Linked DNA regions of Homo sapiens: regions 1 and 3 are each linked to region 2. Evidence: fine-mapped expression QTL. A gene starts in region 2. Each other region holds a variant in brackets. All regions are shown on one strand. Distances are from middle to middle. Region 1 overlaps MAMDC4 (MAM domain containing 4). Region 2 holds the start of DPP7 (dipeptidyl peptidase 7). Region 3 holds the start of SAPCD2 (suppressor APC domain containing 2).

Region 1 (4,677 bases), 260 kb after region 2:
CAGAAGGTCAGACAAGCAGGCTGGGCCAGGGGCCTGTGCTCCTTGGAGGTCAGGGAGGCCGTCTGGCCCCGGGGTAGTGCGTCTGGGCTTGTGTCCACCACCATGTAGTGCCCTGGAGGTGCCAGCATCAGCCTGCCAGCCCCTGGCCAGCCCCTCAATCCCTGCCCCTGCCAGGCCCCCATACCTTGGGCTGTCTCAGTGGTATGGTCTGTTGGGGGGCCCCAGGCAGCATGGCCCGAGGCATTGGCCTGCCGCCTCCAGAGACCTTGGCCTCCAGGGGAGAAGCCGCAGTCTGAGTCCTCAAAGGAGCAGTAATTAGGGGCCCAGCAGGGGCCCGGCCGCACGGCCACATCGTCCAGCGCCATGGTGCCGTGGTATCCGTCCCGGAGGCCCTCGAACAGCAGCTGGGGGTGGAGGGTGTCAGCTGGCCAGGGGCCCTGCCCTGTCCTCCCACCCGGGTGCCAGGCCTCACCTGGTACTGGGCATGGGAGCCAGGCTGGTGGGAAAGGGTGGCCCAGGCCTCGTGCCAGCGGTTGCCCTGGGTGCCTGACCGCGACCACAGGTGTGTCTCCTCCCCTTCCCGTCTCATGGCTAGGCGCAGAGTCCCTGCAGGGAGGGGACCAGTCCATAACTGACCTCTCTCCTGTGCCTTGATGGGTGTCAGAGCGGGGGACTCTGAACCCCCGGGGGCCTCCCCACAGGCTCTGCCCTGTTTCCAGGTCCACTCACCAATCTGGGGCCCATGGAGGTGGTACCAGAAGCTGAGACACTCCGTGGGTGCTGCTGGCACCTGGGGCCTGGAGAGCAGGTGGGCACTGTGGCCCCAGGCCAGGGGGTCTGTGGGGTCCAGGAGCACAAAGTGGCCTGCAGGGGGCATGGGGCTGTGCTGCAGAGATGCCCCACTCTCGTCTGAAAGCCACCCCCGGTCTGAGCGCCCATCCTACCTTGGCCTGTGGTGTGGTCGTGGTCAGGGCCGCGGCTCTCCACCCAGCGCCAGTGTGTGTCTGAGAGGTGGCCTGGGTACCAGCTGCATGTGTCCCGCTCAAAGTTACAGGAGACCTCTGGGGGTGGGGCCAGGTGGCGTCACACACCTTCTCCCCTCCCCCTCCAGAGCCCTGAGAAGGTGGAAGCTCCGGGGTCCCTGGAGGAGTGTAAGGGGAGCACCCAGGTGGGAGTGAGGATGGGCAGCAGGAACCTCTGTCTCTCTCGGTGGTCACTGTGGGGCTACAGTCCCTCAGGGTCACGTTGTCCACCCCAGCTCCCTGCTGGTCAGGGCCATCCAAGTCCACCAAACCGACAAACTCCAGCTTCATGGGGTAGGGGGATGAGGAGGATGGTTAAGTCAGGGCCCGCTCCAGCGGAGCTCCCACTCTGGGCTGCCCTCCTCACCCGGAAGGGCCGGCGGCGGGCCCCTAGAAGGACCTTGTCCACCTTCCAGATGCCTGCACTGCTGCTCAGGGCCTGCCATGCCAGCTCCCGGGAGCCGTTGTCCACCACAACTAGTGCCAGGAAGCCTGGCCAGCGGGGCGGGGGGCACTGTGGGTCACCCGGCCCCAGACCCCTCCCACTGTGCAGGGAGCACCCAGGGGCTGGCCAGGGAACTTGCGGAGTGTGGCGGTACCTCGGGGCTGGCTCTGTAAATAATAAGCCAGGTGGAGTTCACAGCTGGGGCCAGAAGGGCCAAGGAGGGGTGTGAGGACCCGGGCCTCAGCGCCTAGCTGCCCCCAGGCCCGCTGCAGAGACAGGAAGTGCCCTAGGGGAAGAGCATGGTGCTCAGAGCCTCATCCCTTCCAGGGCCCCACTCTGTCCCTCAGGGATCCCCAGTCCAGAGACCCTCTGTAGTGCAGAGGCAGAGCAGAGACCCCTCTGAGGACGCTGCTCACACCCGGGCGGGGGCTTGAGCCTTGGGCCTTGGGCCTCACCAGCAGCAGCTGCACTGGACCCCTGGCTCTCCTGGGCTGAGACACGCCGCCACTGCAGCCGCCCCACGCTGGCGTCCTCCCAGCCCCCAGCCTCGGGGGACTCAAAGTCTGTGGTGCCTGGAACAGCAGCCGGCACTGAATGGCAGAGTCCTCAGAGTCCTCAGCCTGCCCCGGCGCCTACCCCCTTGGCTCCGCAGCAGGAGGTCTGCAGGAGGTTGAGCCCCTTTACCACAGGCCTGCTCGTCCTCGCCCCCTGCGCACTGCTCCTCGAAGTCACACAGTTGTTCCGGGGGCACACACAGGTCCCCGCAGGCAAGATGCCCCTGCTTGCAGGAATCCTGGAGCCGCGAGCTGGGCGGCAGGGGCTGGGGGGCTGGGGCCCGGGGCCCAGGAGGCAGCGGCTGCAGGGTGGACACCTCTGTGGGGGCAGAACTGGTGTCAGGAGGCAGGGATGGGGAGTGCTGTGCCTCTCCAGGGCAAGGCAGGGTAGGGCAGAGTCAGCAGGCTCACCCGAGACTGGTCTGCAGTGGTCAGACAGGATGAGGTCGTCCAGACCCACGACGCCCCCCGGGCCTGTCTGCCCGGCCAGGAGGATCTGAGGGCAGAGGGGCTCAGGGGGTGCCCAGCCTATTTCCCCCTGGGGTCTGGTCCCTGTCCACCCGCAGTGGGTACCTTGTGGGTTCCCCTCCCCTGCCCACAGTGCGGCTCCCCAGACCCCACCCTCTTGCTGTTCCCTACCTGGAAGG[G/A]GTAGGCGCTCTGGATGTCAACACGGTCTCGGACCCAGGCGGTCCCCAGCTCCCCTCGGCGCCTCCGCAGCAGGACGGGGGCCCGGGGGGCGCCGGGCCCCAGAGTCTGCAGGAACAGCTGGAGGCAGCCAGCCTCAGACCCACTCAGGTACTGATAGAAGACCAGCTGTGGAACCAAGAGCTGGCTGGGGGCCTGCACCGGGGCAGCCAGCACGGAGAGCAGGGAGGCCCTGTGAGCCCCACCCATCTCACCGAGCAGTTGGAGGTGCCTGAGGCTTGGAATTCGGGGCTGGAGAGTATAGCAGGGGTGCCAGGCTCGGCCACGGAGACCAGGAAGGAGCCTGCGGGAAAGGACGGGAGTGGGCCAGGGCCACTGGGCTGTGGCTGCGTGGGCAGGGCCTGGGCCGGGTCCTCTGTGGGCCTCACCCTGTGCACTGTTCCGGCTGTGGTCACGGCGTGGCCAGGAGGGGCGCTCAGGACCACCAGCGCGGTGGTTCCGGGACCAGCCTTCCGAGCGGTTCCATGGGCCCAGGCCTGTCTCAAAGTCGGTGGCTATGTGGCGGCCTAGGGCAGGAGGTGGGCGTGTCAGGGCCACCAGGCAGTGCTTCCTGAAGCCGTATGGCCCCAGCTCCAGGGGGGCCCTGGCAACCACACCCCAAGAAGGACCATCCAAGGATCCAAGGCACCCCCTCCTGGATGAGTGCCAGGGCCCCCACCGAGGCGTCCAGTCTCCCAGCCTCACTCTGGGCCCCCACTCCGGCCTCACCACAGGTGAGTGGGTTCTCATCAGACAGGTCCCCGCAGTTGTCTTCCCCGTCGCACAGCTGCTGGGGCTCCACGCAGACCTTGTTCTGGCAGTGGTGGTGTCCCGGGGGACAGTTGGCCTGGGGGGCTGGGTGGGGCAGGGTTAACCCTTCACCGAGGCCCCAGGAGTGGGAGAGCACTCGGGGGCAGACAGGGTCTGAGCAGGGGAGTGGGCAGGTGGGGGCCCTCCCGGGGGTGGAACAGGAAGAGGCGGTGCCTTACTGGGCAGACCACAGTCCCAGAACTCTAGGTCATCTAGAGCCACAGCGCCCCTGTGGGTGGCATTTCGGGTGGCAGAGAAGGTCACCTGAAGAGAACAGGCTCTTAGGACCTAAGTCAGGGCCCAGACCCCTCCTCAAGGCCCCCACTCGTCCAGACCCTCCCAGCTCACTCGGAAGTCACCCCGGATGCGGCCTGTGGTCACTGCCAACTCCTGCCAGCCAGGGCCCCAGGGCCCTGTGCTCTGCCACAGGGTCAGGGTCTCTGCGCCATGGGTCAGCTCCACCCGCAGTTCAGCCACATCTGCAATGTCAGGGGTCCCAGGGCAGCTGCGGCCCTGCTTGTCCCCAGCTGCCCACCCGCCCTCCCCTTGGGCACCCCCCACGAGCCTTGGGGGTCCAGGGTGCACCTCCAGAGGCCGCGTGGTACCAGAGCCTCAGCTTGCAAGAGGAGGCTGCCTCTCGCAGGGTTGGCGAGCGCAGGGCTGCGGTGGATGCCTCTTTCCCTCGGTGGGTTCCAACGGCCATGTACCAGCCTGGCGCAGGTGAGAGGTCAGGAGACGGGGCAGGGAGCAAGGAGGGTATTGGGACAGGGGCGCACAGAGACTTGCCCTGGCCTCACCCAAGTCGGTGCCCAGTGTGTGGTCTGAGTGAGGCCCAGGACCCTCCAGTGCGGCCCCTGCCCTGTCTCGGAGCCAGCTGTAGCCTGAGGTACTAATGTCCCGCCAGCCGCAGGGGTCCTGCTCGAAGTCACAGGCGAAGGGGGCGCCCAGGGTGGGCGAGGCCCCGTGGTAACCTGGGAGAGTGGGTGGTCAGGTGTGTGCCAGACCTGCTCGCACTGGCCCTGCCCGCCCATCTGGTCTTGGCTCACCACACTGGGCCTCATCTGAGCAGTCCCTGCAGTCACACACGAAGTTGCACACGGCCTGGCCAGGGCTCCTGCAGTGGTTGGGGACCCAGGCCCAGCCTGAGGACCCTGCTGCTGGG
Region 2 (9,417 bases):
GGATTTGATAGGCATTTTTCCAAAGAAGACATACAAATGGCCAGTCAACACAGGGAAAATGTTCAACATCACTAATCGTTAGGGAGATGCAAATCAAAACCACAGGCTGGACATGGTGGCGCACGCCTGTAATCCCAGCACTTTGGGAGGCCAATGTGGGCGGATCATGAGGTCAGGAGATCAAGACCATCCTGTGTAGGGACCAGCCCTACAGGGTCAGTGGGTCTCGCCCCGTGTGTGGAGATGAGAGAGTGTAGAAATAAAGACAGAACACAAAGAGATAAAAGAAAAGACAGCTGGGCCAGGGGGACCACTACCACCAAGTCGCAGAGACCGGTAGTGGCCCCAAATGGCAGGCTGCACTGATATTTATTGGATACAAGACAAAGGAGCAGGGTAAAGAGTGTGAGCCATCTCCAGTCATAGGTAAGGCCATGTGGGTCATGTGTCCACTGAACGGGGGCCCTTCCCTGCCTGGCAGCCTAGGCAGAGAGAGGGAGAGGAGACAGAGAGAGAGACAGCTTACGCCATTATTTCTGCGTATCAGAGACTTTTAGTACTTTCACTAATTGACTACTGCTATCTAGAAGGCAGAGCCAGGTGTACAGGATGGAACATGAAGGTGGACTAGGAGTGTGACCACTGAAGCACAGCATCACAGGGAGACGGTTAGGCCTCCGGATAACTGCGGGCGGGTCTGACTGATGTCAGGCCCTCCACAAGAGGTGGAGGAGCAGAGTCTTCTCTAAACTCCCCAGGGGAAAGGGAAACTCCCTTTCCCTGTCTGCTAAGTAGCAGGTGTTTTCCCTTGACACTGACGCTACTGCTAGACCATGGTCTGCTTGGCAACAGGTGTCTTCCCAGATGCTGGCATCACCGCTACACCAAGGAGCCCTCTGGTGGCCCTGTCCTGGCATAACAGAAGGCTCGCACTCTTGTCTTCTGGTCACTCCTCACTATGTCCCCTCAGCTCCTATCTCTGTATGGCCTGGTTTTTCCTAGGTTATGATTGTAGAGTGAGGATTATTATAATATTGGAATAAAGAATAAGTACTACTAATGATTAATTATATTCATATATAATCATATCTAAGATCTATATCTGGTATAACTATTCTTGTTTTATATTTTATTATACTGGAACAGCTCATGTCCTCGGTCTCTTGCCTTGGCACCTGAGTGGCTTGCCACCCACAATCCTGACTAACACAGTGAAACCCCGTGTCTACTAAAAATACAAAAATTAGCCAGGCATGTGGATGTGCGCCTGTAATCCCAGCTACTCAGGAGGCTGAGGCAGGAGAATTGCTTGAACCCGGGAGGTGGAGCTTGCAGTGAGCTGAGATTGCGCCATTGCACTCCAGCTTGGGCAACAGAGCGAGACTGTCTCAAAAAAAAAAAAAAAAAAAAAAAAAGCAGGCATTTCACAGCCATGTTCATCGCATCAATATTCACAATGGCTAAAACAGGCCGGGTGTGGTGGCTCACGCCTGTAATCCCAGCGCTTTGGGAGGCTGAGGCTGACAGATCATCTGAGGTCAGGAGTTCAAGACCAGCCTGGCCAACATGCTGAAAACCTGTCTCTACTAAAAATGCAAAATTTAGCCAGGCGTGGTGGTGGGTGCCTGTAATCTCAGCTACTCCGGAGGCTGAGACAGGAGAATGGCCTGGACCCAGGAGGCGGAAGTTGCAGTAAGCCGAGATCGTGTCACTTCACTCCAGCCTGGACAACAGAGTGAGACTCTGTCTCGAAAAAAAAAAAGGACAAAATGCTGTAGGATTCCACTGATATGACGTACCTGGAGTCAGCAGAGCCACAGAGACAGATGGTAGAATGGTGAGTGCCAGGGGCTGGGGTCCATTGTTTAATGGCTACAGTTTCTACTGGGGGTGATGAGATAGTGGAAAATAGTGATGACGGTGCACAGCGTTGTGAAGGCAGGAATGTACCTAATGCCACCAAATTTCACACGCGGAAGTGGTTAAGTGGTCAATTTTATATTATGTATAATTCAGCACACAGACCAGCACGGCCCCAAGTGCGGATGCAGTAGGTCACGGCCAGCCGCCCGCCGATAGCCTTTCAGTCTGAGGGACAGCACAGACGTGATGTGTGGCCGGGCATGGCCCCCAGTCTGTGAGCCATAGAGGGTGGGACTGGGTGTCCCAGCAGGAATCGGGGTGTGGAGGAGCTGCCTAGATGGTCTGGAGAGGGCAGATGGACCTCGAGGGGAGGGTTTGGGCTCAGCAGCCTCTCACCCTTGCTGGCCAGGCTCCCAGGATTCCCTGCCCAGGGACCTCTCACCCCCTCAGCTGGTGGCTCTGCAGCCAACCTGCCCGTCTGTGCTGCTCCGGGGATGGGCAGAGAGAGATCGGGGGTGTCTGCACAGGCATGGGCAGCCTAGGCTCACTTGCCCCTTGGGTGACCTACTGTGCCCTGCACAGGCTGACGAGGGCCCTGGCGATGCAGACCTGGGGTCCTCCTGCAGAAGTTGGGCCCCTTCACATGTCAGGTTGCTGTGCCAGTGAAGGGGTGGCCAGCCCCTCCACACCTGTGGGTGTTTCTCGTCAGGTGGGATGAGAGACTGAGAAAAGAAATAAGACACAGAGACAAAGTATAGAGAAGGCAGTGGGCCCAGGAGACGGCGCTCAGTATACGGAGGACCCGCACCGGCCCCGGTCTCTGAGTTCCCTCAGTATTTATTCATTACCATTTTCACTATCTTTGCATGAGGAATGCGGCAGCAGAGCAGAGGTCAGCAAGAAAATGTGAGCAAAGGCATCTGTGTCACAAATAGCTTGAAGGGAAGGTGCTGTGCCCGGATGTGCACGTAGGCCAGATTCATGCTTCTCTCCACCCAAACATCTCAGTGTAGCAGAGTAACAGAGCAGCATTGCCGCCAGCATATCTCGCCTCCAGCCACAGGGCGGTTTTCTCCTGTCTCAGAATAGAACTAATGTACGATCGGGTTTTACACGGAGACATTCCGTTCCCAGGGGCATGTCGGAGACAGAAGCCTTCCTCTTATCTCAACTGCAAAGAGGCCTCCCTCTTTCACTAATCCTCCTCAGCACAGACCCTTTATGGGTGTCGGGCTGGGGGACGATCAGGTCTTTCCCTTCCCACGAGGCCATATCTCAGGCCGTCTCACTGGGGGGAAACCTGGACAATACCCAGGCTTTCTTGGGCAGAGGTCCCTGCGGCTTTCCGCAGTGCACTGTGTCCCTGGTTAATGGAGAATGGAGGATGGCGATGACTTTTACCAAGCATACTGCCTGCAAACACATTGTTAACAAAGCACATCCTGCACAGCCCTAAATCCCCTAAACCTTGAGTCAATACAGCACATGTTTCTGTGGGCACAGGGATGGGGCTAAGGTTACAGGTTACCAGCACAGGCCTAGATGCCTTAAACCTTGATTCCATACAGCATATGTTTCTGTGGGCACAGGGATGTGGGCAGGGGACTGTGGCCACCCTCACCCCTGGCAGAGCCATGCTGGGTAGCCCCATGCCCACCCTTCCCGGCTTGGGAGGCCCTGGCTGCTGCCCAGAGGGGCATCAATGCCTGGGCCGTGGACAAGAGGGAAAGTGGCTTCCTTGGAAACCCTGCTCCTGGAGCCCTCCCTGAGGCTCTGGCCCCTCTGTGGGCCCAGCCAAGCCTGGAGCGTCTCCAGGCTCTGGTGTGCTTGGGGAGCTGGCCAGCTCTCGGCCTAGCTGGCGTCTCCAGAGCTGCGGTCCTGGGTGAGGGTTGCTGGTGGAGTTCTGGCCACCTAAGGCACCCGAGGGAGCCAAAGGAGCAGAGGTGTGGGGTGGGGGACGCCGTGGGGTACCTCCACATCCAAGGAGGTCTGCTGTTTGTCCTCACCCCCGTCCTGCGGGGGCCCCGGCAGGCAGCCCCAGGAACTGCGTAGGGATGGGACAGGGCCCAGATGTGAGGGCCGTGGTGGGGACGGTGTGTGGCCCTGGATGACCTCGTGTTGCAGTGTGACGTGATGGTCACTGCCACCATGCTGAGGGCCCCAGCCACCAGTCACCCACCATGGGGGGTGCCTCTGTGTGAGGCACGGGAGGGCCATGGCGTGAGGGGCTGTGGAAGTGGCCGGTCTTCTCCGCTCAGCCCCACACAGGATGGGCAGGGCAGGGTCATGCTGGCCGAGGGTAGTCTTGGGAGAAGGACAGGGTAACTCTCTGTAGCTGAGCCCCTGCTGCCCCTGCACCTGTTCTGGGCCTGGCTAGCGGCCCATGTACATCCCCAGCAGGACTCCACGTAGCTAGTCTGGCACCCACCACTACGGCCCCCTCACCCACTCCCTGAACTGGACGCTGGGGAAAGGTGACTTCTTCCATCCTCTGGGTGCTCCCCAGGGAGGAGGCCCCAGCTCCCAGCAGAGGCCTCTGGTCCCCCCTTGTCCCTGCAGGGCTGTGTGGGCACACTGGGTGCCAGTCGGAAGGGCAGGTGGCGATTCCCAGCTCTTGGGAGCTACCCGGCCACATCCCGGCCCTGCCCAGACGCTCCAGGGGCACCCCACACTCCTGCCCGCTGCGAGGCCCCGCCCCGCCAAGCCCAGCCCGTTATCGCTTGGACAAACCCTGGGTTGCTTTCTTCGGGGGGCCAGCACTCTGTTTGGGACCCTCTCCCTCCCGCCCTTAGGGCAGCAGAACGGCCCCCACTCTCCCGGCCCTGCCTTGGAGTGGGGCACCTGCCAGGAGCAAGTGCTGGGGAGGCTTGGCGGGCGCAGCAGGGACTCGCCCTAGCGCAGCTCCGGATGGGGCCGCGGTAGGAGGACGAGCCAGTGGGGCGGGAGGCCGCGGAGATGGCCCGGGGGCCCTCTGCTTCCCCGCGCCGTGCCCGGGAAGGACCCCTGGGCAGCGGCCGCGGGGCGCGGGGTGTTGGGGGGCACAGCCCCGGCGCGGCGCTGAAGCAGCGACGGTCTCCGTGGGGACCGCGGGCGCCCGAAACACGTGGGGCCTGGAGGGAGGAGCGCGCCCTGGCGGCCCCGTGACCCCGCCCACGTGACGGGCGCCCGCGGAAGGCGACATGGGCTCCGCTCCCTGGGCCCCGGTCCTGCTGCTGGCGCTCGGGCTGCGCGGCCTCCAGGCGGGGGGTGAGTGGCGGCGCCCCCCGGCCCATTCCCCGGTCCCGGCCCCGCCTCTGAGGTTCGCGTCCCCCCACAGCCCGCAGGGCCCCGGACCCCGGCTTCCAGGAGCGCTTCTTCCAGCAGCGTCTGGACCACTTCAACTTCGAGCGCTTCGGCAACAAGACCTTCCCTCAGCGCTTCCTGGTGTCGGGTGAGACCCCGGCCCCGGCCCGGCCGCCCCCGCCGTCCCGCCGCCCCCCGGCACCCTCGCCTCATCCGCCCTCCCCACAGACAGGTTCTGGGTCCGGGGCGAGGGGCCCATCTTCTTCTACACTGGGAACGAGGGCGACGTGTGGGCCTTCGCCAACAACTCGGCCTTCGTCGCGGAGCTGGCGGCCGAGCGGGGGGCTCTACTGGTCTTCGCGGAGCACGTGGGTGCCGGGCGGGGTCGCGGGCGGGGTCGCGGGGCACGTGGGTGCCGGGCGGGGTCGCGGGCGGGGGTCGCGGGGCACGCGGGTGCCGGGCGGGGTCGCGGGCGGGGGTCGCGGGGCACGCGGGTGCCGGGCGGGGTCGCGGGCGGGGGTCGCGGGGCACGCGGGTGCCGGGCGGGGTCGCGGGGCCGGGCTCAATGGCACGTTCCCCCAGCGCTACTACGGGAAGTCGCTGCCGTTCGGTGCGCAGTCCACGCAGCGCGGGCACACGGAGCTGCTGACGGTGGAGCAGGCCCTGGCCGACTTCGCAGAGCTGCTCCGCGCGCTACGACGCGACCTCGGGGCCCAGGATGCCCCCGCCATCGCCTTCGGTGGAAGGTGGGCGCCTCCCCCGGCCTCCGCACCCCCTCCCTCCCCTGCCCCGACCCAGCGCCCCCAGCCCTTCTCCCCACTCCCCTCTGACTCCCACCGCTGCCTTTTCGTAAGGCCTCAGGCAGTGGTTCCAGGCTTAGTGTTGCCTCCCCCAGGAAGCCCTCCCACCTGTCCTCCCAGCCACCTGCTCAGCTTGGATGTGCGGCCACACTAGCGGCCTTTCCCAGTGAGAGCTGCACCCGCACCTGGCCCAGGGTTGGAATTTGTGGGTCTCAGAAGTGTCGTCCTCCTTGTGGCACCTGTGGGCCCCTGAGGAGGAAAAGAGGAAATGGGGTGTTGGGGGCAGCAGCCCTAACCCTGTGTCCCTCACCCAGTTATGGGGGGATGCTCAGTGCCTACCTGAGGATGAAGTATCCCCACCTGGTGGCGGGGGCGCTGGCGGCCAGCGCGCCCGTTCTAGCTGTGGCAGGCCTCGGCGACTCCAACCAGTTCTTCCGGGACGTCACGGCGGTGAGTGAGGCTTGGGGTCCTCCAGGCCCCCTAAGGGACAGCAGCTGCAGTCAGCACGGTCTCTTTCCCCCAGGACTTTGAGGGCCAGAGTCCCAAATGCACCCAGGGTGTGCGGGAAGCGTTCCGACAGATCAAGGACTTGTTCCTACAGGGAGGTGAGGTCCTCCCACCGCCTCCCACTGCCTGACCCGCCCCAGCGCCAGCTATGCCCAAACTTCAAGTCTCTGCCCCTTCCACGCAGCCTACGACACGGTCCGCTGGGAGTTCGGCACCTGCCAGCCGCTGTCAGACGAGAAGGACCTGACCCAGCTCTTCATGTTCGCCCGGAATGCCTTCACCGTGCTGGCCATGATGGACTACCCCTACCCCACTGACTTCCTGGGTCCCCTCCCTGCCAACCCCGTCAAGGTGAGGCGCCGCCTCCCAGGGCGCAGGGAGAGGCCGGCTGGAGTGTCCCGAGGCTGGTGGTCAGCGGCCTGACCCTCATCCTGGGAGCCAGGGAGGCGGAGCTGGTGGAGGGGACCCCGCTGAGTCGCCGCTGCCCCTGCACTCCAGGTGGGCTGTGATCGGCTGCTGAGTGAGGCCCAGAGGATCACGGGGCTGCGAGCACTGGCAGGTGCCCTTCCCCCGGCCCCAGATGGGCAAGTGTGGAGACCCCAGGCTTGGCTTGGGTCCTGGGGCCGGGTGGGGCGAGGATCCGCAGCCCGGCCAGGGGCTTTGCCTCCTGCCCCAGGGCTGTGGTGGGGTGGACAGCACGACCTTCCCAGAAACCCTGGGGGAGGCAGGGGCCGTCCCTGGGGACCCTCTCAGCACTGGCTGTAGCCAGGCCCAGCTTGGTGGGTGCTGCCCAAGGGGCCCCTGGGGTCCCCAGCATGGAGGGCAACAGAGGGCAGCAGGCCCCACCCTGCCCCGTGGAGAGCGGGGGGGCCCTCAACAGTCAGGCCCGGGGCTGGCAGCACAGACACCGCCGACCTCCAAGCAGGTAGCCTGGAGGGCCTTCCTCACTGGGACCTACAGATCCCAGAGCCCCAGATCCCCTGCAGGACCATTCCGAGGGGGGACAGGTTGGTGGCCGGAGCCCGCGGTGTGTCTGTGTGTGGCCGCTGGGCCCCAGCGCCTCTCCTCCCCAGGGCTGGTCTACAACGCCTCGGGCTCCGAGCACTGCTACGACATCTACCGGCTCTACCACAGCTGTGCTGACCCCACTGGCTGCGGCACCGGCCCCGACGCCAGGGCCTGGGACTACCAGGTGTGGGGGTGTGGGTGGCCTGGAACCACTCGGGGGCAAGGGTGGGCGTGGGCTGGCCTGACTCAGGCTGGGGCACCTGCAGGCCTGCACCGAGATCAACCTGACCTTCGCCAGCAACAATGTGACCGATATGTTCCCGGACCTGCCCTTCACTGACGAGCTCCGCCAGCGGTACTGCCTGGACACCTGGGGCGTGTGGCCCCGGCCCGACTGGCTGCTGACCAGCTTCTGGGGGGGTGGTAAGGCTGAGGGGGGGTGGGCCAGCGTCCTGCTTTCTGCCCCGAGCTCTGCACCCCCTGCCCATGGCTCACAGCCCCCGTGAGGGGCCCACATCACAACTTTCTCTGCCCCTTGCAGATCTCAGAGCCGCCAGCAACATCATCTTCTCCAACGGGAACCTGGACCCCTGGGCAGGGGGCGGGGTGAGTCCTGGCCTGGGCCCTATGACCCCGTTAGTTTGTTTGTTTTTTTTTTGAGACAGGGTCTTTCTCTGGCGCCCAGGCTGGAATACAGTGGCGAGATCAGGGTTCACTGCAGCCTTGACCTCTGAGGCTCAAGCCTCCCAGTAACTGGGACTACAGGCGCTCACCAACATGCCCAGCTAATTTAAAAAAATATTTTTTTGTAGAGACACAGTCTCACCATATCGCCCAGGCTGGTCTCGAACTCTTGGGCTCAAACGATCTTCCCCGCATGGCCTCCCAGAGTGCTGGGATCACAGGCCCCTCGCCTGCCCCTACCCTGCTCCCGTCTCACCCCCAGAGTGCTGGGATCACAGGCCCCTCGCCTGCCCCTACCCTGCTCCCGTCTCACCCCCAGAGTGCTGGGATCACAGGCCCCTCGCCTGCCCCTACCCTGCTCCCGTCTCACCCTCAGAGTGCTGGGATCACAGGCCCCTCACCTGCCCCTACCCTGCTCCTGTCTTACTCCCAGAGTGCTGGGATCACAGGCCTCACACCTGCCCCTTCCCTGCTCCTGTCTCACCCGGTTTTGCCCCCATCATCTCGTCACTTCCCACCTCCGTCTCTGGCTGGTTCTCTCTGGTTGCTTGATGGGCACTGAGTCTCGGCTCGCCCTCTCACGTCTCCTCTCCAATGGGCCCACGGAGGCTGGGCAGTTGCCTCGTTCCTCACCTGATGGAGTTCTTTCCACTGACCACAGATTCGGAGGAACCTGAGTGCCTCAGTCATCGCCGTCACCATCCAGGGGGGAGCGCACCACCTCGACCTCAGGTGCGGAGGGAGGTGGCCTGGCGGTGGTCGCGGGTCGGGCGGGACAGGCTCACCGAGGGCTGGGGCTGACGGGCCCCCTCTGTGCCCGCTCCCCAGAGCCTCCCACCCAGAAGATCCTGCTTCCGTGGTTGAGGCGCGGAAGCTGGAGGCCACCATCATCGGCGAGTGGGTAAAGGCAGCCAGGCGTGAGCAGCAGCCAGCTCTGCGTGGGGGGCCCAGACTCAGCCTCTGAGCACAGGACTGGAGGGGTCTCAAGGCTCCTCATGGAGTGGGGGCTTCACTCAAGCAGCTGGCGGCAGAGGGAAGGGGCTGAATAAACGCCTGGAGGCCTGGCCATGTATGTCCCGTCCTTCCTGTCTGTGGGGCCCACACGCAGGCTGTGGGAGCGGGACCCTCGGAGACACGGCTGGGGACGCGGCGCACCCCACACAGGCCGGGTATGCCATGTGCTCCACAAGGTAGAGGCTCCACAACGCTCAGGTCTGCTCCTTAGGGCAGCGGGGGGCAGTGCCCCGCAAGGAAGCCCCGCTCTGCTGAGCCG
Region 3 (9,515 bases), 42 kb after region 2:
TGTCAAGTCGGCACTCGTGACCCGCGCCACTGACCAGCGTCACGAGACCGGGCGGGCGGTGTAGACCCCCCAGTGGGGCGGGCCCCGGGCGCCCCGCCCCGCCCCGCCCCGCCCCGCCCCATCCCGCCCGGTCCCGCGCCCTGCCCTGGAGCCCGCCCACCCCCGCTGCGCACCCCAGACTCTGTCCGGGTTCTCTCTGACCCCGCCCTGTCTACATCCCCCCAGCCCCCCCGCGTCCGGTCCGAGACTCGAGACAGGGCCCAGCCCCATCTCTCCAGCCTGTCCCCCGTCCCTCTCCGTCCCCTGGACCCGCTCCGGTGTCTGGCCCTGGCCTGCTCCCTCGAGCTCCCGTCCCCGTTCCTGCTCTTCTCCAGGCCCCGGGCCCATGCCCGCCCTGTCCACTCCGCGCCCCGCCCCGAGAGATCCCAGGACCCTCTGGGTCGCGCCAGCTGGCGTGGGCAGAGGAATCGACCATTGAGCTAAGGGAGGAAGAGGCCCCAGGGACGCCCCGCAGGGGAAAGCTAGGTTCTGTCCCAGCACGGGCTTTGAACCTGAGAGTGGCATGGCCACCTTTGCGCTAACCAAGACTTGGACGGAGACCTCCTGGTGCAGAGACAACCGGCCAGAGTGCATTGAAGAGGCCTGGGCTACGGCTGAGCTGTTGGGAGGCTGGAACCAGACCAGGTTCCGGGATGCCATCCCGCGGCTTGGGGCTCCCTCCCGCACACCCTTCCTGCTTCCCATTGCCTGGTGACCAGAGCGCTCTGCAGCCCCTCGCCCACATTGTTATTTTACTATCAGGTTTTAAAATATCTTGCTTGTGGTCGGCGCGGTGGCTCAAGCCTGTAATCCCAGCACTTTGGGAGTCCTAAGTGGGGTCAGGAATTCGAGACCAGCCTGGCCAACATGGTGAAACCCCGTCTCTAATAAAAATAGAAAAATTAGCCGGGTGTGGTGGCAGGCGCCTGTAGTCCCAGCTACTCGGGAGGCTGAGGCAGGAGGCCTTGAACTCAGGAGGCGGAGGTTTCAGTGAGCCGAGATCCTGCTGCTGCACTCCAGCCTGGGAGACAGAGTGAGACTTCTCAATAAAAATAAAAATAAAATAGTTTGCTTGTGAAAAATATGAAAGGGTAGCTTCTGCCAGTTGGGCACAAAACTTTCTCCTAGAAACTATATAGTAAGTCTAAAAGTAATATATGTGACTGCATAAAAGAATTCAAATGGTGGCCAGGTGCAGTGGCTCATGCCTGTAATCCTAACACCTTGGGATACCGAGACAGGATGATCGCTTGAGCCCAGGAGTTCAAGACCAGCTTGGGCAACATGGTGAAACCCCGTCTCCACTAAAAATACAAAAATCAGCCAGGTGTGGTGGCGTGTACCTGTAGTCCCAGCTACTTGGGAGGATGAGGCACGAGAATCACTTGAACCCGGGAGGCGGAGGTTACAGTGAGCCAAGATCGCACCACTGCACTCCAGCCTGGGTGACAGAGCGAAACTCTGTCTCAAAAAAAAAAAAAAAAAAAAAACCGGGCGCAGTGGCTCACTTCTGTAATCCCAGCACTTTGGGAGGCCAAGGCGGGCGGATCACCTGAGGTCTGGGGTTTGAGACCAGCCTGACTAACATGGAGAAACCCTGTCTCTACTAAAAATAGATACAAATATTAAATATAAATATAAATATATAAGCATGGTGTTGCATGCTTATAATCCCAGCTACTCCAGAGGCTGAGGCAGGAGAATCGCTTGAACCTGGGAGGCGGAGGTTGCCATGAGCCAAGATCGCGCCATTGCACTCCAGCCTGGGCAACAAGGGCGAAGCTCTGTCTCAAAAAACAAACAAACAAACCGAAAAAGAAAAACAAATCATGCTGTTACAGGAAAGAGGTTCCAGACCTCAAGAGAGGGTTCTTGGATCTTGCGCAAGAAAGAATTCAGGGCAAGCCCATACAGTAAAGCAAAAGCAAGTTATCAGGAAAGTAAAGGAATAAAGAATGGTTTCTCTACAGACAGAGCAGCCCTGAGGGCTGCTGGTTGCCCATTGTTATGTTTTTTTGGATGACATGCTAAACAAGGAGTGGATAATTCATCCCTCCCCTTTGTAGACCATATAGGGGAACTTCCTGACGTTGCAGTGGCATCTGTAAACCGTCATGGTGCTGGTGGGAGTGTAGCGGCAAGGACAACCAGA[G/A]GTCACTGTCGTTGCCATCTTGGTTTTGGTGGGTTTTGGCCGGCTTCTTTATCGGAACCTCTTTTATCAGCAAGGTCTTTGTGACCTGTATCTTGTGCCGACCTCCTGTGTCATCCTGACTTGGAATCCTTTAACCATCCAGAAATGCAGCTCAGTAGGCCCCAGCCTTATTTTACCCAGCTCCCATTCAAGATGGAGTTGCTCTGGTTCACACACCTCTGACAGTGATCTAGGACCCAAAATGAAAACTAACATCTCCCTCATGCTGCCCCGTGGACCCCTCAGGCAGTTGTGTTTCCTTGCAGTTGGGTTCTGCCCCCACCTCCACACACATGCCCTCACTGAGTTTGGGAGGGGGCTTCACCCCTGGGGCAAGGCCCACATGCACTCTTCTGGACCTGCATGGAGTTGCTTTTCGGGCCTGCCTCAGGGTCTCTGCACTTCCTGTTCCTCCCTCCTGGACCGCTTGTCCCCAGAGAAACGTGTGGCTGGGGACGCATTTGGTCAGGCCTCAGCTCCCCAGGCCACGCCCACTCGGTGAGCACCTTCCCATCCTCCGTGCCAGGCTGCCTTTCTGCATTCTTGGCTACCTGACTCCCCTGTGAGAAGCGAACCCCACAAAGGCGGGGAGTTGCTGTTTTTGTTTTGTTTTGTTTTTTGTTTTGAGACCGTGTCTCATTCTGTCGCCCAGGCTGGAGTGCAGTGGTGCAATCTCGGCTCACTGTAACCTCCGCCTCCCGGGTTCAAGTGATTCTCCTGCCTCAGCCTCCTGAGTAGCTGGGATTACAGGCGCCCGCCACCACACACAGCTAATTTTTTGTATTTTTAGTAGCGATGGTTGGCCAGGCTGGTCTTGAACTCCTGACCCCATGATTTGCCCGCCTCGGCCTCCCAAAGTGTTGGGATTACAGGCATGAGCCACCGTGCCCAGCCCAGGCAGGGCATTGTTTAGGCCAGTGGTCTGCCCCCATCACCTCAGGTAAATGCAGCACACAGTAGGCACTCAATCAATGTTTGTTGATTGAACAAACGAGTGTTGAACCCCAGCCCACACCGTGACTGGGCAACAGCAAATGTTCAGGGAGTACCTGCTGCATGAATGAATTAATGAATGGCCTGTTCTGCTCCAGTGGTTTGTGGTGGTTGAACATCGTTTAGGTGAACGTTGGAGTTGGAGGGGAGGCTCGCGGAATCCGGTGAGCAGAGCAGGCTTCCCGCCCCAGGCCAGAGTCCATGGGAACCCTTATCACCCCTGCAGGGCTGGGCAGCAGAGGAGGCACATGTCTCTTGGAGGCAGGTGTCAGGACATGAACTGTTGGCCCTGTAGGTCAGGGTGATTCCAAATCCCACCTCAAGGTGTGGGTTGGGCTGTAATAGAAGATTTGGAAAATCAAGGTTTGTACAGCCAGAGGCACTTGCGGCACCAGAAGGGGAGGAGCGACCCTGCCCAGACCGACAGAGCCTACGGATGGGTGGGAGTGCTGGCAAGGCTGAGGTGGGCAGCAACCTCCTGGACCACCTTGTGGCCAGGCAGTTGTCTTCACAAGAGGCCCAGGGGAGCAAGGCCCTAAGGCTCAGAGGCCAGGAGTGCAGACGGGGAGCCCTGGGAGGCTCAGGGGCTGGGTGGCTGTTGCCAGTTCTTCACTTGGTGCCCACTGCTGGGGATACATCAGGGGACAGAGGGGCCGGTCTTCCTGCCACCTCTGCCCAGAGTGGTCCAGGCTTACACAGTGAGAACACAATTACAGCTAAGATGGGGCCTCCAAAAGTACAGGGACAGCATGGGACCCCCAGGGGTGACACAGCACTAAAACCTGAAGGATTGGGAAACTATCAGGCCAGCCGGAAAGTGGAGTGAAGGAGGAAGTGGTCAGAGCTCAGGACAGGAAGGACACAGGACCACATCTTAGCTCCACGCCCAAAGCCAGGCACAGCCTCCAGTCTTTTTTTTTTTTTTTGAGACGGAGTCTCGCTCTGTCGCCCAGGCTGGAGTGCAGTGGTGCCATCTCGGCTCACTGCAAGCTCCGCCTCCTGGATTCACGCCATTCTCCTGCCTCAGCCTCCCGAATAGATGGGACTACAGACGCCCGCCACCACGCCCGGCTCATTTTTTGTGTGTGTGTGTGTTTTTAGTAGAGACGGGGTTTCACCATGTTAGCCAGGATGGTCTCGATCTCCAGACCTCGTGATCCTCCCGCCTTGGCCTCCCAAAGTGCTGGGATTACAGGCATGAGCCACCGTGCCCAGCCTTTTTTTTTTTTTTTTTTTGAGATGGAGTTTTGCTCTTCTTGACCAGGCTAGAGTGCAATGGCGCGATCTTGGCTCACCGCAACCTCCACCTCCGGGGTTCAAGCTATTCTCCTGCCTCAGCCTCCCGAGTAGCTGGGATTACAGGCATGGGCCACCATGCCCGGCTAATTTCGTATTTTTAGTAGAGACGGGATTTCTCCATGTTGGTCAGGCTGGTCTCGAACTCCTGACCTCAGGTGATCCGCCCGCCTTGGCCTCCCAAAGTGCTGGGATTACAGGCGTGAGCCACCGTGCCCGGCCTCCAGTCTTTTTCATACCTTCCTCCAATACCCAGCCAGGGGCCACAGAGAAGCCCACAGACCAAGGGCCAGCTGGGGCCGCCTCCCCCAAGGCTCTGGATGGTATGAAAAGCCCTTGTTTCATCTGCACGGTGGGTTCAGTTCCATGCGGGGCCATGGCTGGCCTGGCCTGGACACTGCTGGCCACGCTGTCCTGAGCTGCAGCAGCCTTGCTCACTGCTGGCCACCGACTCCACATCCACACTGGCCTCCCCTGCCATACCACTGAGCTGTTCCCAGCCCTTCCCCATCCCTTAGGCCTCAGCCTGGCTTGGTGCCCACTCAAGGATGGTGTTTCCCATATGATTTCACTGGATACGGCTCCCCAGTGCCATTCACAGAGCACCCACTGTGGGCCAGGCCAATGCCAGGCCTAGAAGGAGCCCTGTCCTGCTTGCAAATAGCCAGGGCCCCCTGGGCCAGGAGAAAGCTGTCCCCTGTGTTTTATCTAACTAGGCTTCAGGGGGAAGGGGACTGGGGCCAGAGCAGAGTTCTGAAGGATGTAGTGCGGTCAGCCTGGAGCAGAGGGGAAGGGCCTTCCTGGTAGAAGAGCCACCAGGCACAGGGGCCTGGAAGTGAGGGAGTGCAGGGACCCCAGGCCTGGCACTGGCGGTGAGGGGTGTGCTGGAAGCAGGGTAGGTGTGGGGATGGGGGGGCGGGGGCTTGCGTGTTGTGCTGGTTTGTTTTGTTTTGTTTTGTTTTTGAGACAAGATCTCGCTCTGTCACCCAGGATGGAGAGCAGTGGCTCAATCACAGCTCACTGCAGCCTCAACCTCTTGGGTTCAAGGGATCCTCCCACCTCAGCCTCCCAAATACCTGGGACCACAGGCATGCACCACCACGCCTGGCTAATTTTTTAAACTTTTTGTAGAAATAGGGTTGCCTTATGTTGCCCAGGCTGGTCTTGAACTCCCCAGCTCAAGTGATCCTCCCGCCTCGGCCTCGTGCTGGGTTTTTGAGCAGACCAGCCATTAAAGGGGAAGCTGGCTTACAGGACCAAGCTCTGATGGGCTGCTCCAGGCTCAGAGCTTCTTATGTCCTTCCAGCATTCCCTACGATGAAGGAGTCCCACTTAGAGTGAGTGACCCAGAAGAGAAGTGGACCCAGGATACTCCCTGGCCTGGGAAGATGCCTCTACAGCTTGAGACACAGGCACCAGTGGCTCAGGCCTGAGGACAGAGACCCAGGTAGGTATGCCAGCTGAGGCCTGCCCAGGAGGGAGGGTGGGAGACCCGCAGAGGGCCAAGGCAAGTCTCGGATTGGGGGCCTGTCTGGGGAGGGTGTTTGCACCCTGAACACCTCCCTGGAACCTAGAGGGTACTACTGGCCAGCCCTGAGATGGGCTCCCAGGGCTAGAACCCAGGCTAAGGCCTGGTCTCACCTCCCATGTGGACAGACCAAATGAAGACAGAGTGACCAGATCCCAGCTGGAAACACAGCAGAGGCAGGGGGACAGGGCTGCGGGAGCCAGGAGAGCAGCTGGAGGAGGTGTCCAGCCAGGGGAAGGAGGAGAGGAGAGCAAGAGGCAGAGGGAGCTGGTCACTAGATGGGGATCTGGGGACACAGGAGAAAGTGGCTTTGTTCTGCAGCAGGCAGGCCAGGCCAGACTGTCCCGAGGGACCAGAGGAGGAGCCAGCAGCAGTGGGGACAGAAAGGCCTCTGTGAGTGGGAAGCGCCCAGCTGGCTGGAGCCTACGATCCTCTTGGGGCCCTCCTGGTGGAAGAGAAGGGGGCCGCAGGGTCACCTGTGCTTGCGGCCAGGGAACTAGAGGGGAAAAGTGGGATCTTTGGAGGGGGTGCCCCCCCCCATTCTTACCCCACGAGGCTACCTGGAGACAGGTTTTTTTGTAGGGTGCCAGGCCCCGCCCCTTGGAGAGGTGGCCGGGGCAGCCAGCCACAGCTGGATCCGAGAAAGCGCCTGGCCGCGGCAGGAGGTTTGGTGGGGCTGGGGCGGGGCAGAAAGGAAGGTCTGCGAGGCCAGAGTGGAGCAGGAGCTGGGGGATCCGGTTCCGCCTGCCCAGGGCCTCCGCGCGCCTCCCAGGGCCACTCGGCAAGAAAAAAAAAAAAAAAATCAAACCTCCTCTCAGCCTATCAGAGAGCAGATGGGACGGGCTCGGCCAATGGCCGCGGCGCATGTTAATGAGGGCTGACGCCGCGAGGAGGGCCCCATTCAAAAGTAGTCGCTATTGTCGCCGTGGGCTGAGCTCGCCGGGCCGGCCCCTCCGTGGGGCCGCGCTGGGACGCACGCGGGTGGACGAGGGGACCGATCCCGGGCGCCCATGGCCGGGGCCGCCATGGCCGAGCGGGGCCGCGTGCCTCCCCCCGCACCCGCGCCCAGCACGGAGGGGCTGCCGCGCGCCTTCCTGCAGAGCCTGCGCACCCTGTTCGACATCCTGGACGACCGGCGGCGCGGCTGCGTGCACCTGCGCGAGATCGAGTCCCGCTGGCAGGGCACCGACGCGCGGGAGCTGCCCCGCGGGGTGCTGGAGGGCTTGCGCCAGGTGGCCCCGGCCAGCGGCTACCTGACCTTCGAGCGCTTCGTGGCCGGCCTGCGCACCTCCCTGCTGAGCGCCGACGGCGGCCCCCGGGACCCCACGCGCGCCCCGGCCCGGCCCGGGGATCAGCCGCCGCCGCCGCCGCAGCGCCTGGTGTTCGCTCCGGCCGACGAGCCGCGGACGGTCCTGGAGAGGAAGCCCCTGCCCCTGGGCGTGCGCGCCCCTCTGGCCGGTCCCAGCGCCGCCGCCCGCAGCCCGGAGCAGCTGTGCGCCCCGGCTGAGGCGGCGCCCTGCCCCGCGGAGCCCGAGCGGTCCCAGAGCGCGGCGCTGGAACCGAGCTCCAGCGCGGACGCAGGTGAGTTCCGGACGGCCCCCGGGCACCCTCGTAGCTCTCCCGGGCCCGGGCCAGAAACCGCAGTCCCACAGCTGCTGCCCGTGCATTTCCCACAAGGGACGGGACCGGGGAGCGGCTCTTCGTGGACTCCGGATCCTGGAGGGCGCCTCGGCGGGTCTGGAGGGAAAGGGCTTCATGCTTGTCGCGGTGAGCCCAGGGGCTTGCTTAGGGAGGCAAGCCAGACCCTCTCCTGCCACAGCATAAGGCCACCAGGGCCGGGGGGTGGCAGGTGACTCAGAAAACCCACCGGGAGCCCAACCTGTACCAAGCCTGAGCTTGGGCTCTCCATCTCCAATACCCTTTCCGCACCTGGGGACACCTGGGCCCTCAGCCTCCTGTCTGTGGCTGCTCAGGCAGAAGTGCTTCCTTCTCAAAGAAAGGGTCCCCCTTCTCAGTGTGACAGCTTAGCCAGGGGGGCTGGGCCCACTGACCCCACTGAGGCCTAGGCAGGCGGGGGCTGCTGCTGGTGGCCCAAGAGGACCTGGCCCTGTTGCCAAGATGGGCAGGGGCGTGGGTGGATCTCCTGCACCCCAGTGGGGCTGTACTATGGCAGATGCCATGGAGGGACATAGGCCGTAGTCCCTGGGGATGGCTGGCACACTCCTCTCCTGCCTTCCGGTCCAGTTGGCAGTGATGGGAGATTGCTGAATGGTCCCCTGTCTCCCCCAACCCAGTGCCTGCCTTGGGAACAGGACCTGTATTATGGCTGGGGTTGGGGGGCCAAGCTCCCAGAGGGGCCCCAGGCCCCACAGCCCATTCGGCCTGTGCACCCGTTCTGCCAGGGGAGGCCTGCCCACCGGTGGCTCCTGCCGGTCCCTGTGCTGCCTGCTGCTCTGCCACCCTCCCTGTACTGCTCCCCCACCTCAGCCATATTCTCCAGCCCTACAGCTGGTGTTTGGAGCCACGGCGGCCCTGGCCTCCCTGGTGATCTGATCCAGCAGCCACACCAGGCTGGGGGACCCCTAGTTCTATGGTGAGGGAACCTTCAGAGGGTATCTGGCTCCAAATGCAGGGTCAGCGTCATCCATGTGGCCATGCAGTTTGAAATCAGCCATGGGATTGCACGCTGTGGCCGGGCCTGGGGTTTGGAGGCCTAAGCCTGTGGTCCACCCCTGCTCTGCTCTGATGCCCCATGCGGCACTGGCTCACGTACCACATCTCCCTGAAGGCCACATGGCTAGGGCTGTAGCTGTCACCCTCTCACAGGCAAACGGAGGGCCAGACAAATGGCGTGACATATTTGATTGACACAGCTGGCTTTTGGGGTGTCAAATCTGGAGCTCTGAGGTCACCCCAACTCCCAGAAAGCCTGCCAACACACACAGCCTTCCAAGCCCCCAGCCCAGATGTTCAGGGCCTCTTTCCTTGTTCCCACCTGGGACTGCGTGTTTGCTCCAGGCTGGCTGTGGCCCTGGAGGTGTGGCCTGCTGGCTCAGGGCCCTGGAGGGGCAGAGCCACCACCCCCACCTAGAGGCCATCTAGCTCATCACCCAGCACGCTGCTATCTGGGGACCCAGGAGCTGCTCTATGGACTCAACTGTACAGACCGGGCCCAGGTGTCCTGGGACTTCCTCTATGGCCTCCCTCTGTCTGTACCCTCTCTGCTCCCACCTCCTGAAGGGCTGTGTGCTCTTCCACTGTCTTGCCCCAGAGCTGCCAGCCGCTCAGCACCGCAGGCTGGAGTGCGAATTCGGGCCTGCCTGGAGCCAGGCTCTCTGCCGTGCCTACCTGGGCCCAATTCTTGCATCACTCCCTGACTCCTGTGGCCAGGTGCCAGGGGCATGGCCTCTAAGGATGTGCCTGGTGCTGGGGCTACAGCTGGAGGCCGAAGGAGGATGCCTTCCTCCA

What was found. PIP is the estimated chance that this variant, and not a neighbour inherited with it, causes the effect. A credible set is the group of variants that fine-mapping cannot tell apart.
Region 1: its variant is the best candidate, but not a certain one, in a credible set for the expression of DPP7 in whole blood (INTERVAL, PIP 0.77).
Region 3: its variant is the best candidate, but not a certain one, in a credible set for the expression of DPP7 in whole blood (TOPMed, PIP 0.83).

The regions. Positions count from the first base shown.
Region 1 is chr9:136,853,094-136,857,770 of GRCh38, reverse strand. MAMDC4 (MAM domain containing 4) reads right to left here. Exons shown (of 27, transcript NM_206920.3): 2 at 4,562-4,669; 3 at 4,313-4,486; 4 at 4,101-4,226; 5 at 3,864-3,994; 6 at 3,695-3,779; 7 at 3,435-3,560; 8 at 3,095-3,232; 9 at 2,921-3,009; 10 at 2,661-2,834; 11 at 2,433-2,517; 12 at 2,152-2,340; 13 at 1,923-2,039; 14 at 1,622-1,753; 15 at 945-1,061; 4 more. Among named protein-coding and RNA genes, the nearest start is that of MAMDC4, 3.1 kb to the right of the region's middle. RefSeq lists an enhancer at 1-127. The variant G/A (reference allele first, on the strand shown) is at 2,669.
Region 2 is chr9:137,110,339-137,119,755 of GRCh38, reverse strand. It overlaps DPP7 (dipeptidyl peptidase 7), which reads left to right and starts at 5,023. Exons shown (of 13, transcript NM_013379.3): 1 at 5,023-5,109; 2 at 5,180-5,293; 3 at 5,374-5,513; 4 at 5,728-5,891; 5 at 6,260-6,395; 6 at 6,469-6,550; 7 at 6,637-6,803; 8 at 6,951-7,011; 9 at 7,526-7,644; 10 at 7,727-7,883; 11 at 8,002-8,066; 12 at 8,806-8,876; 13 at 8,973-9,210. The coding sequence starts at 5,043. The coding sequence ends at 9,108. It overlaps LOC124902314 (a long non-coding RNA gene), which reads right to left and starts at 4,957. Exons shown (of 2, transcript XR_007061874.1): 1 at 2,712-4,957; 2 at 1,978-2,585. RefSeq lists silencers at 4,798-5,147, 5,178-5,327.
Region 3 is chr9:137,068,003-137,077,517 of GRCh38, reverse strand. It overlaps SAPCD2 (suppressor APC domain containing 2), which reads left to right and starts at 6,961. Exons shown (of 6, transcript NM_178448.4): 1 at 6,961-7,628. The coding sequence starts at 7,058. UAP1L1 (UDP-N-acetylglucosamine pyrophosphorylase 1 like 1) reads right to left here and starts at 1. Exons shown (of 9, transcript NM_207309.3): 1 at 1. RefSeq lists silencers at 1-68, 79-168, 6,904-7,313, 7,484-7,533, 7,584-7,633 and 1 more and enhancers at 2,853-2,912, 2,623-3,236, 5,820-6,799, 9,360-9,409, 8,762-9,515. The variant G/A (reference allele first, on the strand shown) is at 2,192.